Linked DNA regions of Homo sapiens. The protein of the gene in region 2 purifies or fractionates together with the protein of the main gene of each other region. This does not show direct contact. Each region holds a gene or a part of one and is shown on either strand. Other genes may lie near its edges.

Region 1 (4,460 bases), on a different chromosome or scaffold from region 2:
CACAGAGAAACACTAGGTAACAACTGGCTGTCAAAAATGCCAACATCTTGAAAGACAAAAAAAGGTTAAGAAATTATTCCAGATTAAATTAGACTTAAAAGACATGACACCCACCAGATGCAATGTATGCCGCTGATGGGGAGGTCTTTCATGGGTGACATTCCATAAAAGACATGAATCCATACTGTATATAGGATACTACTGTATGTATGTTAAATTTTCTGATTTTGATGATTGGAATGTGATTCTAGAAGGGAAAATGTGTCCTCAGAAAGTACGCATTCAAGTATTTTGATATAAAAGGGTATGATCTCTGCAACTTACTCTCAAACAGTGCAGGAAAGTAATAATAATATGTATGGACATACAGAGAGTGACAAAGCAAATGTTAACAGTTGGTAAAACTGGAAGAAGAGTATACAGTAGTTTTTTGTTCTCTTCCAGCTTTCAGTAGATTTGAAATTATTTCAAAAAAAGTTGAAAAATGCAAAAGACTTCATTTGAAAAGTTTGGCTCAGAGAAGTGAGACCGGAGTTGTGAAATATTCTCTGAAAACTATGCAGCCTAGTCATCCCTTTAAATAGATGAAGCTTTATTTTTGGACTCAGCAGATCCCTTTGTCCATATTATCCTGGCCTCCAGCACATCACTGCTTACTCAGGTAGTCTCGGGGTTTACCTGAGGAGGATTCAAGGATACTGGGATGAAATTTATTTGTAAAAAATACTGTTTATCACACTGTCCAATAAATCATTAGTGCCCACTATGTATAGCTCAATGCTTTTACAATTTAGTACTACAAAAAAAGGCTTTTTTCACCCAAGAAACAGGTATTTCTCTTGATTTCTGATGACAGGAATTACATAACCATGACTCTTATGATGTTGTCAGACAGGAAGACTAAGGTCGAATGTGCGGACCAACTTCAGCAGCCACTGGGCTAAAGCTCAGGGTGACTTCCTAGGTCCGTTCTTTTCCTTTGGCTTGGTTATTTTTATCTGAATTTTACCACTTTTTGTCCTATTTTGAGGCAAAACTAAATCCAAAAATCATTTTGGCTCTCTGGGAAATGTAAGAACTACTGATGTGCTCAAGTTGGTAAATTCGGGCTCTTTCAGGCTCCTTCTGGCCATACACTCGATATGGGGAATTCATATGGAGATTCCCTGCCACCGTTTCTAAGTCTTGACACCAACTTCTGAAGCATGACTTTGGGCCACAAAACAATGATCTATAGAAGTTGAATCTCCAAGTTAGCCAAGTTACATTAATCACTTACCTCAAAAGGTCAAAACTGAGCACGACATTTTAGGTATTTATAGCAAGAAAGATGAGTAAGGTCCACGACTTACTAATCTTAAAGGTATGACAACTCTGTGAGCATTATTTTATTGCTACTACCAAGAATTCCTTTATATTTTAATAGTTCTGCAAGACTAAAACTACAAAGCAAAAATCTCACATGCAAATGTGGAAATGAAAAATACTTTCACCCACTGGTTTCACTCTTGACACAACCAGACCTGAGGGGACCTGAGGTGAACCCATTGGGGGAGGGCATGAGTTAAGGGTGTCAATAATTGAGGGAGGGGAGCTGTAGTATCGACAACGCTGATTTTGGCTTGTGTTTTAGGTAGAAAAGCAAGTTCTAAAATAAAGAGCTACAAAGCTTGATATGACGTGTATTTCAAAAAGAATTCACACAAGCAAAGAGGATTTTTCCAGTCCACAACCACTTCTGGTCGCTTCAGCAGCAAAAGGAAGGAACTAACAGTAGGAGATGGACTGTAGCAAACTAAAGAAGGCACCCCCACAAGGTTGTCAAGGAAACCAAACCAAGTGCATTTTTCTATAGAAAAGAATCAAGGGTAAGGTGAACATGCCATGTTACATTTTGTGGCAAAAATGATTAAAATCCCTTCTTGAAAAAAATCGCTAAGAGACCAAATTTACTTCCAGGCTATTTTACTAAGCACTACACCCATAACGCAGGCAGGCAAGCTTGTATTCCCAAACTACCAGCTACATGGATTCAGCAATCACCTTACTACAACCAGCTAACTTGGGTCACCGATACTTCAGGGCATTTCCTAAGATCTCTTTTTAATAGCTTAACGGCAACGAAAGAAGTGGTCACACTCAAAAAGTTAAAAACAAAAACCTCTACCACAATTCCACAAACATGCTCTCCCAAATTTAGGGTATTTTTCAAAATGGAGTCTTTTTAAACACATCATTTTTCAGCGAAAAGGCAAATCTATGCAAACCAAAGGGACAGCTTGGCCTGAGTGTGCCATTTCATACTGGAAAAGCGCAGGGAGGGCAGTAAAAATGGTATCAAGTTGGGAGATCGATGCTATTCTCTCCACAAGTAGGTGGTAAAGAATCCTCAGCCAGGAGGAATGACACGCACACGCGGGGACAGAACGAGGGCCAGTGCTGAGAACGCTGGAAGGCAGGGACACCGTTCACTAGGAGATGAGTGACGTTAAAGGATCTGCAGTGATGATCTGTGCCTCACGCTGGCGAATATTCCTAGGAGGGGAGATCCCGCGCTCCCGGTGTCCCTCAGGGTGTCCACCCCGGCGACGGCCGGAGCCGGGCTGCGGGTCCAGGGGCCCGGCCACGTGGGCGGGGGAGGCGAGGAGCGCCGGGCTCGCTCAGAGTGGGCACCGCGTCCCTACCCTCCGTGCTTTTCCTCTTGTGGCCCTTCCCGGCAGGGAAGAGGGGGTTTTACGACGTCAAGGCAAGGCTTGGAGGGAAGCGGCGGCCGGCGCCCCACCTGCCCAGGTGATCGCGGGGCTCAAGCCCGGGGCGACGGACGCAGCTCGACCTCCAGGCGAGGTGGACGCCAGGGGCCGGGAGCGGGGCCGCGGAGGAGCGGGGGTGGGCGCCGAGCTGCTCTTACCCGGTGCCACAGTCCACCACGCAGGGAGGCAGGGAGCCTGCCATGCTCGGGACGCGCGGCGCTCGGCCCCGCCGGCAGCCCGAGAGCGCCCCGTCGCCGTCCGCTCCGCCGCCCGCTAGCCCCGCGCGCAGCGTCTCCCGCGAGCCGCCGCAGCGCCGCTGCCGGGAGCCCGGATGCTCGGCGGCCGACACGTGACGTCACTCCCCGGTCGGCCAATCAGAACGCGCGCACGCCCCGCCTCCCCCAACACCCCCACCCCCACTCCGGCGCGCCATCTTTAGTGCTGGCAGCGAGGCTTCTTGGCCCCATACGTCCAACCTTGCTGCTGGAGAGATTGGGGTTTATTTTTAACTGACTTACATGAACGTGACCCCATTTCCGAGGCCTGGCGCCTTTCTCCTCCTGTAAGTCTTCGCTCGAATGTCACCTTGCGAGGGAAGTTGTTCCTGATCACCCTGACTATGTCCCCTACCGGTACTGTATCCTCTGTCTCAACAATCTGTTGGTTTCATTCCTAACCCTTAAAGCAAAGTGTTTATATTTTTATATTTATGTATTTGTTGTCTGCCTCCCCTACTGGACTATCAAATCTTCTAGGATAGGGCTTGAGTCTGTCTTAATCACTATTGATGAGCAGCAGGTGCTTAGCACAGTATTTGGTGTACCTGTGGAAGTGCCCAAATGTTTGTTGAATGACTGAGTAACCTTCCCCATATAATAAAAAAAAAAAAAAAAATTAGTTGGAATTGGCCGGGCGCGGTGGCTCACGCCTGTAATCCCAGCACTTTGGGAGGCTGAGGGTGGATCACAAGGTCAGGAGTTCCAGACCAGCCTGGCCAACATGGTGAAACCCCTTCTCTACTGAAAATACAAAAATTAGCCGGGCGTGGTGGCGGGTGCCTGTAATCCCAGCTGCTCCGGAGGCTGAGGCAGGAGAATCGCTTGAACCTGGGAGGCGGAGGTTGCAGTGAGCCAAGATCGCGCCATTGCACTCCAGCCTGGACAACAGGGCGAGAGTCTGTCTCAAAAAAACAACAAAAAAAATTAGTTGGAATTATTATACCTAACACGGCCTAAATTTTTCTAAGAAGAAAAATCTGCAAAACAAATGCTTGGCCAGCCTTAAGGAATGAATGGCCTTAGACTGAGTAAACCACACCAAGATCACTCCTGGAAAATGTTTTCAAGTGTCGAAGATGGGATGATCGCCCAAAAGTTCTTACTGAAACCAAAGAAGGCAAACACCACCTACTATATTATAAAGGTACTGAGAGTCCCACTTGCCACTTGCTTCCTGCTTCTTGCCCGATCGTAAATTCTTGATACTAATTTTTTAGGAGCTTTCTGGAAACATGTATTTTTTTGTTTTGTTTTGTTTTTTGAGATGAGTCTCACTCTGTCGCCCAGGCTGGAGTGCAGTGGCGCAATCTCGGCTCACTGCAACTCCGCCTCCCAGGTTCAAGCAATTCTCCTGCCTCAGCCTCCCAAGTAGCTGGGATTACAGGCACCCACTACCATGCCCGGTTAATTTTTTGTATTTTTAGTAGAGACA
Region 2 (3,817 bases):
GTTTGTTTTTAAAAAGAGGAAACCAAATCTACTTCCAGAATCTGATTTAGACTGTATATTCTAAAATCTTAAAATATACAAAAGTCTGACATACAGGGATGTTTTTTCATTCAACTCATCTTTAACACCATTGCTAATAATCTTTAATTCAAATCGAAGTCTTTCTAAACTTAATAGGATTTTTATTCTCCTTTCACTTAATAGAGCCTGTGAAACTTTGATTGGACAGCCAGTTCTTCCTGAATTTTTTCTTAAAATTGGAAAGCACCTTAAATAGAAAAATCCTGTCCAACTTAGTCATTTCACAGATAACAAAAACATTTTCCTGGATGGAATTAAGTTTAATTATAGTTATTTAATAAAAGAATTTGGACTCTATCTCAAGACTCCTAAGTTTTACTGTTCCCTTTCAGCCTCACTATACTGCCACTCTTCAGATAATTTGAAATTAAACTATTACTTGAATGAATGAATCAGTCATCCTATCAATATCACTCTTCATTTTCCCACTCTTAATATTTTATTTTCAATAGCAAGTTAAGAATTAAATACTAACTTTGCTTGCCTATTAGGATAAAAAAATTAAATACCAACTTGAAACATTTTTAGCACATTATACATATGCTTAATGGAACTTTTTAGCATTTTTTTTTAAAGTGGAGTCTCACTTTTATTTTTCATTTCACAGATTTCTTCCTTTAAGACCCTCAAGGCTGAGCTTAAAATTGGCAGAATTCCATATCAGTCTGAGCACACACCGCACTCTAATTACTGTAGCATGCATACCAATATTTCGCCATGCAAGCAGTGGCGGAGTCCAAACGTTTCGCTTCATGCAGCTGGAGACAGTTGTCCACAAATGCTCGGGTTACACATATATGTGTTTTTAATTCTGCTAATTTATGTTGCACTGTCTTGAATTTAAAGGAAATAAAAGAAAAAAGTGAGCATGGTAGAAATATAAACTTCAACCCACTTAACATATCAGAAATTATACAATAAAAGATCTTTAGGGCAAACAAAAGTGGAATTGTTGGTTTTTTCCTCCATAAAAATGGCATTTGTTACCAAATCAGCTTAAATTTAAAACTCACTATATTTCAGTGCTAAGGAAATTTGTACTAAAAGATGCAAAAATAGTTTAAAACATAAACAATGTCTTGTTTCAGATTGTAAAATTTAGACGAGGCAAAATTCTTGAAAAACAGCATGACTTTAATGTGTGAGCACCATCTTGTGGTACAGTTATTTAGGTACAGCCGTTGAAAACACCTGTTGCTTTTTCCTCCAGAGATTAAATCCTTGAAGATTTTTTTCTTTATTAATGAAATTAAGTATACAGATTTTGCTACTCTGCTTCTAACATCTGGAGGGACAAGGGGTTTCTATATATGTTCATAAACATCAAAATATAAGGTATTATTTAATATTGCACAGTATTTAATCTAGATCTGTAGAAAGCAATAGAATAAAATCAGAGTACTAAAGAGATCAAAATCCAGTACCCTCATCCTCTTTCATCCCTTCACATTATCCCTTCTGATATGGTTTGGCTCTGTCCCTACCCAAATCTTATCTTGAATTGTAGCTCCCATAATCCCCACATGTTGTGGGAGGGACGTGGTGGGAGATAATTGAATCATGGGGGTGGGTTTGTCCCATGATGTTCTTGTGATAGTGAGTAAGTCTCATGAGATCTGATGGTTTTATAAAGAGTGGTTCCCCTGCACACGCTGTTTTGCCTGCTACCATGTAAGATGTGCTGTTGTTCCTCCTTCACCTTCCGCCATGATTATGAGGCCTCCCCAGCCATGTGGAACTGTGAGTCCATTAAACCTCTTTTTTTTTTTTTAATAAATTACCCAGTCTCAGGTATTTCTTCATAGCAGTATGAAAATGGATGAATACACCTCCCGTACCTCTCAATAGCTTGTTTAGCAGTCTCTAGCTTGGACTGAATGGTCTGGGATTATCAATGTTAATATAGCTATGTACCTACCTCCTCCTACTGGCCATGGACAACCCATTAGCATTTTTGGAAATCATTCTATTTAGACCATTCTCAATTGTTGCTGACTGTCCTTGCTTCAATCAAGCTTTATTTCATTCCTGACTCTAGGCTCTCACACTCTGAACTTGGAGTGTATATCTGTTCTCTTTGGCACTGACTCTTGAGCCTCCCTCAGGAAATTGGCTTGAACTTGAAATACTGGGTTCCCACTTTGGGTAGCTCCAAAAGTATACTCCATTCTAGTTGATTTCTTAGGTCCAAGGCCCAGATATGGTCAGCTGGCCTATCTTCTTTGTGAAAATTCAGATAGAAACAGTTCTGATCATTCTGCTGTGAAATGAGTAAGAACTTCACTGTGGCTAATAGCATATACATGGAAAGTTACAGGCAAAGGTGGTGCAGTGAAACTCAAACTAGAAATTAAACACATCCCACCTAGGTACTACCAAGTCCAAAGCCACAGCTGTGTTCTCAAAGGAGGGTGGTGGGACACATTCTCAGAAGATACATGGTCTGCTTTTAATGCTGGCTACAGCAATTCTCAAGTTATAAAACTGATTCTTTCACTGTCATTGTTGGTTGGGACAGTTTTGATACTTACCATTTCTGGAAAAGAGTAGAATGGGAGTGTAAAAAGACCCAGGACCAAGCAAGACCAGGGTGTATCAGGTGGAGTAAAGCTCTGAGGGGCAGATTCCTTACAGGTATATCAACATAACTACTGTGCTGATGAAAACTCCAACTGACTGTCTTTCCCCTGGTTTTATTTCACCCTGTTCTAGAAACAGAGAATGTAACTGGCATCGAATGATTCCAAAACTAAGCAATGAGAAGGTTGGCACCCCACTCCTTCCATCTCTGTATTCTGGCCTCTAGTTCTGAACATGCTGGGTCACATCAAAACTTTCTTCCCCGCTTATTGTTTCCCTTAATTTTTTCTATCTCCATTTCTATTCATCATATATTTAATTAGGTCAAATATCTACCCTTTAATCAGCACAAAGTTTCCCACTCCCAACCCACACATTGAAGTTTACTCTTAGACAATATAAAGATGGAACAAAAAAAGAAAAAAATAGGCAAATAATCTATATATCGAAAACAGATGAGTATTCCATGAAAATCCCTGAAGATGGTTTCTAAGCCTACTCCTAGTTTAGTTCAATGACACTATGTATGACACTTTATTTGGAAAATAAGGGTGGATCCAACAAGTCTCAAGATATTTTTTTGCCTACATGATGCCACATTTGGGAATTTATGCACTGTCTTTACAATATGAAAGAGTAAAGATATCTAAGCCTGATTCTCTCATACAAGAGTCATTCCTTTGTAAATGCTGGAAACTTCTAGAAGCTGAAGTAAAACTTCAAACCAGAATGGAATGATTTAGAATTCTTGCATCAGTGCATTCAGTGAAGTCCAGAGGTCTGAGAGAATAATGTCTCCAAGAGTACATAATTTACTCTCTGAGGATAAAAAGATTAAATATTTACATATTCTTGCCATTGGGTTGAGCGTTACTAAACAGATTTGGTCTTTGCTTTTCACTGCAGACACTGCATTATGCTTTCTGAAATCATCCTCTAATCAAAGGCAACTAAAAATTAGACCACACATTACTAGTCAAGTGCTCTTAGTGAATGATCGACAAGGTCATAGCAGTATTTTTAAGTCATTTATATTTGTTAATAAATAATACTGCAGCTAGCATTAAAAATTATTCTGAAGTTACTAAGTGGGCTGGATGGAGTCTTTTTCAGAGTTCTGAATGACAGAATTCTTAGAATTATGGAAATGGAGAAC

What was found.
Region 1: the proteins of ACADL (region 2) and ACTR3B purify together in Homo sapiens (affinity purification with mass spectrometry; one large-scale study listed by BioGRID and IntAct). This does not show direct contact.

What each region holds. Positions count from the first base shown.
Region 1 is NC_000007.14:152,758,375-152,762,834, reverse strand, and holds the start of ACTR3B (actin-related protein 3B), read right to left. Parts: upstream 3,084-4,460; 5' UTR 2,953-3,083; coding exon 2,909-2,952; exon of another isoform or gene 2,783-2,908; intron 1-2,782. UniProt on the Homo sapiens protein: Plays a role in the organization of the actin cytoskeleton.
Region 2 is NC_000002.12:210,194,425-210,198,241, forward strand, and holds part of ACADL (long-chain specific acyl-CoA dehydrogenase, mitochondrial precursor), read right to left. Parts: intron 915-3,817; coding exon 787-914; intron 1-786. UniProt on the Homo sapiens protein: Long-chain specific acyl-CoA dehydrogenase is one of the acyl-CoA dehydrogenases that catalyze the first step of mitochondrial fatty acid beta-oxidation, an aerobic process breaking down fatty acids into acetyl-CoA and allowing the production of energy from fats.